Linked DNA regions of Homo sapiens. The protein of the gene in region 1 interacts with the protein of each later gene in a pairwise test. Each region holds a gene or a part of one and is shown on either strand. Other genes may lie near its edges.

Evidence for each region. The genes of interacting proteins can lie anywhere in the genome.
Region 2: the proteins of CARD10 (region 1) and ZNF12 interact in binary tests that used the Homo sapiens proteins (3 or more experiments, as listed by UniProt).

The regions. Positions count from the first base shown.
Region 1 is NC_000022.11:37,505,916-37,509,415, forward strand, and holds part of CARD10 (caspase recruitment domain-containing protein 10), read right to left. Parts: intron 2,768-3,500; coding exon 2,612-2,767; intron 2,040-2,611; coding exon 1,914-2,039; intron 469-1,913; coding exon 277-468; intron 1-276. UniProt on the Homo sapiens protein: Scaffold protein that plays an important role in mediating the activation of NF-kappa-B via BCL10 or EGFR.
Region 2 is NC_000007.14:6,693,448-6,696,947, forward strand, and holds part of ZNF12 (zinc finger protein 12), read right to left. Parts: intron 1-3,500. UniProt on the Homo sapiens protein: Transcriptional repressor which suppresses activation protein 1 (AP-1)- and serum response element (SRE)-mediated transcriptional activity.

The DNA of each region.
Region 1 (3,500 bases):
TAAATGCAAAGACCAGCTCCAAACTATTCTTAGTGTCCCAGAAGCAACCCCAGAAACTCAGAGACCAACATGCCCCTCCGCCTGCTCACCAGCCCACACCCAGCCCAGCCTGGGTTCAAGTTCCCGCCCCTAACTGAGGACTCTTCCCACTTCCCCCAAGCTTCCTCCCCTGGCTGAGGTCTCCCACCAGGGCCGGCACGTTCCCAGCCCTGGCCAAGAGCTCCTGCCAGGACCCCAGCCTTCCTGCCAGGACCTCCACAATCTTGACCCGCTCACCTTGAGGCAGGTGCCACCCTGGGCCCGCTGCAGCTGAACCTCCAGCAGAGCCTTGGTGCCCTCCAGGCTGGTGAGCGTTGTCAGCAGCTCATCCCGCTCCGCCTCCAGGCCCCGCACCTGCTTGCGGTACTGGTCCTTCTCGATGAGGCTCTGTGAGTACTGCAACTGGATCCGGTCACGGCTCTGGATGGCCTAGGGTTGGGGGAGGGGAGGCAGCAGCTGAAGGAGCCACCTTGGCCCAGCTTTCCTGGCCTATGACTTGGAGAATGGGGACAGTAAGGAGAATGGCAGCTATCACTTACTGAGCACTGTGTGCCGGGCCCTGAGCTAAATTATCAGCTCATTTAAATATCTTCACACTAACTGGCTAAGTTAGATACTATTAATATCATTATTCTCATTCTGCAGACTGGGGAAACCAAGCCAGGAGCGACAGAGCTGGGATTCAAATCGGGCAGTCCATCTGCAGAATCCAGGCTCTCACCATTTCACCAAGAACTGAAAACTTTTCCACGAGACCTGCTGTGTGCCAGGGGCTTCACTCCCAGCATCCCAGTCAGTGGAGAAGCCAGGAGTCAAACCCAGCCCACTGCATCCACAGTGAAGACCAGGGGCTCCAGAGCTGGGCCCATGGTCCAGACCTGTCACCCATGCCTCAGAGAGAGCCGGGGGCAGCCCCATAAAATGCAGATTCCTGGGGCCCACCCCAGACCACCTGAATCAGAACGTCCAGAGAATGAAGCCCCAAATTTGCACTTTCAAGCTTGCCAGGGGATTCTGAGGGCATTTCTAATATGCAGACTTCGGCTGGGCATGGGAGCTCATGCCTTTGATCCCAGCACTTTGGGAGGCTGAGGCAGGTGGATCAGTTGAGCCCAGGAGTTCAAGACCAGCCTGGTCAATATAGTGAAACCCTGTCTCTACTAAAGATACAAAAATTAGCCAGGAATGGTGGCATGCCTGTAATACCAGCTACTTGGGAGGCTGAGGCAGGAGAATCACTTGAATCTGGGAGGCCTCAGTGAGCTGAGATTGCACCACTGCACTCCAACCTGGGCAACAGAGCTAGATTCAGTCTCAAAAAGTAATAACAACAATAATATACAGACTTCAACTCCTCTAGTGGGATTCACACCTGGTTAAGGACAAAAACCTCCTGCCCTTCCCCGCTGCAGATGGAACCTCACACAAGGAGGCTCGGGGGCCTGGTGGCACTGGCCGGAGGTCCTCAGCCCACCCCACAACCTTGGCAGGAGACAAGGGTCATAGTGCCCAGGGACTGAAAGCCAAAACTTTTGAGAATTTCTTCATCGGCTTCTATTTGTAAGCACTCCCTCTGTGCTGGCCTTGTCTTTGAGATGGACAGAACAAGGGATTCAAAAATGAAGACACCAGGACCAGCTTCTGTAACTGCCACAGGAGCTCAGATGAGGCCAGTGGGTCCAGGGTGTAAGGCTGGTATCTCAAGGGCTCCAGGTCTCCTGTCTGGTTCCCCCAGCCTTTGTGCCCCGTCCTAACCCAACAGGGAGCGGCTAACGTCTCTTTCTACCATTCTAGTCCCCTCCATTGCTCCTTGTCTCCTCCCATATGGGAAGCAGCAACTGGCCCAGGGCCTCGTACACGCAGGCTGGGCTCACCTGGTCTCGCTCCTTCTCAATCTCCTCCAGTTGGGCCAGGACAGTGGCCATGCGGTGCTTGTACAGGTCACAGTCCTTCTGCAGCGTGCGGTGCTTGAGCCGCAGGTCTTCCATCTCCTGCAGGTACTGAGGGTGGCACGGGGCGGGGTCAGACCACAGGGCTGGGGACCATGAGAAAGCTAACCAGCAGGTGCCCAGGAGGGCCAGTGAGAGACGCTCACCAACAGTCTGAGACCCAATAACAAGTCCCCTCCTGCCCAGTGGAGTGGTCTGAGCCACTGACTTTACCTCACAGGCCCTCAACTGCCTAATCTGTAAAACGAGAAGAATGATCATCATTTCACCCATCCGGCCACCCTTGGCCTCCCCACTCAAACTGCAACCGGCCCCTTCCCCAGCTCTGCATCTCCCACGGTGCTCATCGCCTTTGACTACATGAAATAGCTGACGTGGGACTGTGTATCTCACATACTGCCAGTCTCCCCTGCTGGAGTTCCCCCTCAAGGAAAAGGCACCTTTGTTTTGCTCACTGCGGCATCTCAAGCGCCTAGAAGGGTGCCTCCGTCAACATCTGAGAACAAATGAATGCAGTTCTCAGCGCGGCGCCTGCGTCAAGCAGATGCTCAGGGAAGGCGTGAGCACACAGGCCCTGCCTGACACCCTCCCGCACAAGGGGCAGGGCACGGGCAGGGCCCCACCTGGTCGCGCAGCTCCTCGGCCCACTGCAGCTCCCCCTGCACGGCATGCAGCTTCTGGCACAGCTCCTGCCTGCTGTCCTGCGCCTCCCGCCAGTCATGCTCTAGGATGTCCAGCAGGATGCGCTCGGAGCCCGGGGCCCCCGGCCGGCTCGCCTCCTGGGGATCACAGGGCAGGGCCACCTCAGGGTCTGGCTAGGGGCCCACCCTGGGTGTGGGAAGGAAGGGGACACGCAGCTCTCAGCCCTCCAAACCCACCTGACCAGCTCTGCCATGCTGGCCCGGGGCCTCGACCCTCTCTGGATCTCTGTCTCCCCATCGGCAGAGTGGGTGTGGCCCCACAAGCCCTACCCACCCTCCAGGGAGTATCTGGGGTACAAGTAAGCTAATAAGCTAAGTGGAGAAGGGTGTGACTGGACAAGTTCACCCAGGATTATTCCTAAACAAGCACCAGGCACACACTCGTGCTCTGGCCCTCACCCACCATCCAGGGCAGCAGACGGAGGCCATTCCCAAGACCTACTCCCACCCCCATGACTAGGGGTCTTCAAGGGGCTGAGCCTGGCCCATACAGGTAGACCCTGGGCCCAAGATCTTGCCCCCAGACCCACACCCCAGCCAAGTGCCCCAACCCCATGAAACACACTGGCTCTCATCCCCCACTTCCTGTGTGGAACAATGGCCAGGAGGCAGGCCCATGCAGCTGCTGACCTGCCACTGACCTGCCGCAGGACACTAAGCAAGCCCTAGGGCCCCCAGGCCACACCCTCTACAAATCAAATTAAAGCTGGGGCCCTTTCCCCAGAAAAATGCTCACACTCAAAATCAGGGGGGCAGTTTTAGGGAGTTTGAGGACCTTCTGGAGGCTGCTCACACACCCTAGACCAGACAA
Region 2 (3,500 bases), on another chromosome or scaffold:
GGATAGCGATGAGATCAACTGGAAACTTCAGTATTCTAATGATGCTATGATTTAATGCTAAACTCATTCTGACCATGAAATTCTACTTGTTCCTATTTGAACAGTATATTTAATAGCATGAATTCTGGTGAGGTGACCTAGGGCAAGCTACTTAGCAATTCTCTGTAGTCAGTATCCTTCATCTGCCAAATGGAGATAATGGCACCTACCTCATAAGGTGGTTGTAGGATTGCAGCAGTTAATGCAGTGCTCAGAGCAGCATCTGGCACAAAACACATGCTTGATAAGCTTAGCAATTATTCTTCCCATCTTTCAATCTCCTGACCATTTGCTTAAGCCAGACCCACCCTGACATACTACCATCACTTAATTCTCAGTGTGAGTGCTTTCCCACTCCTGAGTAGCATTTAGTGTACAAACCTTACAAATCAGATCCCTGGCCGGGCGTGGTAGCTCACGCCTGTAATCCCAGCACTTTGGGAGGCTGAGGCGGGCGGATCACTTGAGGTCAGGAGTTCGAGACCAGCCTGGCCATGATGGTGAAACCCTGCTCTACTAAAAATACAAAAATTAGCCGGGCGTGGTGGTGGGCACCTGTGATCCCAACTACTTGGAAGGCTGAGGCAGGAGAATCGCTTGAACCCGGGAGGTGGAGGTTGCAGTGAGCCGAGATTGTGTCACTGCACCCCAGCCTGGGTGACAGAGTGAGAATCTGTCTCAAAAAAAAAAACAAAACAAACAAAACAAACAAACAAAATCAGATCCCTTACCATGCTCCTAAAATAACAATTTTATTTTTACTTACCTTAGAAGTGTCTGGATGAACCTGACTACTGTACTTGCTATCATGCACATTAAGTGAAACGATATCAACCGTAACCCCTATAACCTGTGCTTTCCCTGAACCCACTGCCAAAATATCAACAGATCAAATGAGAAAAAAATCTGAGAGACAATACTTTTCACCACCTGGGATCACTATATGCTGCCAAGCTAGGATGACAGTCATCTAACAAAAATATTCCGTTGCAGGAAAAGCAAGCTATTTGTTGCACAAGGAGGTTCCTAAGATAAGTCCAAGTAGAGAGTTGTTCTGGAGGAAGTGGGTCTGCACTTTACACCTTCTCATGTCACATCAAGCTGGGAGAGATAGGTCATGATCTATCTCTTATCCTTGCCTTATGCTACGATCACTGTGTGCCTGATCAATGCCCAGCACATTTCACCTACAGTCTCCACCCTTATTGTTTCACTCAGTTTGCTTGACTTCCTGCCTTCATCTTCTCAAAACCTACCTTTGTAGGGGATTTCCATGCTTGAAAAAAATACTTCTCAAATCCTTTCTCACCTCAATTCCATTTCCCCTTGAAGTTGAGAATACTGTCTATAGAATCATTTTAATACAAAGTGACTCAGCCTTGCATTGGAACATCAGCACTCCATGTAAAATGCTGAGTTTTAATTACTTCATGCAGCGCTGTTCTCTTTTTTTTTGAGACGGAGTCTTGCTCTGTCACCCAGGCTGGAGTGCAGTGGTGCGATCTCAGCTCACTGCAAGCTCTGCCTCCCAGGTTCAAGGGATTCTTCTGCCTCAGCCTCCTGAGTAGCTGGGACTACAGGCATGCGCCACCAGGCCTGGCTAATTGTTTAGTAGAGACAGAGTGTCACCATATTGGCCAGGCTGGTCTCAAACTCCTGACCTCATGATCTGCCCGCCTCGGCCTCCCAAAGTGCTGGGATTACAGGCGTAAGCCACCACGCCCAGCCCTTGTTCTCTTTTCCTAACCACAACCTTTCTCCTAGGAAGGATGGTCCTATTTCCTATTTCCTTTGAACCTCTGAATAAAAATCAGAGAAGCTGTTCTTAATCTGAATCATATAGGTATTTTTCCACTACTTGCAAAATATATGGGGATGTGACCCAGGCATGCATTATTTCTTTTTTCTTTTTTTTGTAGAGACAGGGTTTCACTATGTTACCCAGGCTGGTTGCAAGCAATCCTCCTGCCTCAGCTTCCCAGGGTTGGGATTACAGGTGTGAGCCACCACATTTGGCCCAGGCATGCATATTTAGAAGTAACTGCCTGTAAATTATTTCTGAATGGATGGACAAGAAAGTTCTTTCACCTGCCTAGCTTCTCAGATAATCAAAGAAAGAAAGAAATATCTCTCTCTGTTACACACTACATCAAGGGATAACATGCCCCTTTCCTTACAGGACTATGATCCAAGAGCAAAACAGCTCAAGCAAAATATAGACACTATCGAATAACAGATTACTTAATCAGAGTCACTTCTTTATCCTATCACCCCTAGGTGAAACTGAAGTCGAGGGAAGGGAGATACAGAAGTCATGACAAAAGTCAGGGAGGGGTTGAAGATTTGAGGTCAGACTTAAAGAATGTGTTATGTGGGGAAGGAAAGCACACCCTAATGAAATGTAAAGCTGTAGGGACAATAGTATCATGAAGAGAAGACATTAGGAGTGTGAACCAAACGGAGTTTAGTCAGAGTTTTGGGGAAACAACAGAAAATTACTTTTTCCAGGTAATACAGGCCTAATATTGTTGAGATCCTTAAGGGACAAGGAATTAAAATTCCCTTTAGGAAGTAAAATGTAACCAACTATAGGCTTATCTTGTGAGGCTAGCGATGATATCAACTGGAAACTTTAGATGAAGACATACTGCAAATCCAGCTAGGACTCATAGCATGACAGCATCTAGTCTTTGTTTACATTAAGTCAAAGGAAACTGAGGATATACAGAGGACAATGAAGACATTTCACACTGGACAAAATCCAGTAATCCAGAGAGATCAGTAATATCTGATGAGAATTTCAGTGGTTTCACAGGGACCACTATAGAAGAAGAAGAGATTAGTATAGTTTAGTAAATAAAGGGAGGTGGAAAGGTGATTAGTAATTATAATTTGGAATAGGTCATGATCAATTTCCAGGCCTGATGAGAACAAGAGCAGCTCTGTAACTGGTATCACAGAAAATACCAGACTAGAGCCCAGGCTCAATGGTGGTAGAGATGTCATCCTGGGTGCGAGCAACATAAAATAAAAAACAAAGCCTAAAGACTTGGCACTGGAGGCACCCTTTGAGAAACTCATAATGCGAGGAAATCACAGTAGGTAGAAACAGACCCTTTAAAGACATTTCTGGAGGTGGTGGAAGCATAAACCAGACTTCATTTGCGTATATGATACTTACTAAGCACCTGCCATGACAGGGTATCATTCAAGGCATTGGGAACAGAACAGAAAATAAGAAACAAGATGAAAACGAGCATTTGGTTAAAGAGGGAGACCCAGGTACTGCAGTCACCAAATTTCAGGAGGGCTGGGTCTCAGGAATGAGCAGCACTGTCCAATGAAGCACAGGTGCACATGACAAGTAGCAGGATCCACTGGCTTAGGCACAGGATGGGAACTTTGGAGTCTAACCTCAAAGAAAGAAAAGTACAAAGTAGAACAGGGTCCAGAAACAGTCT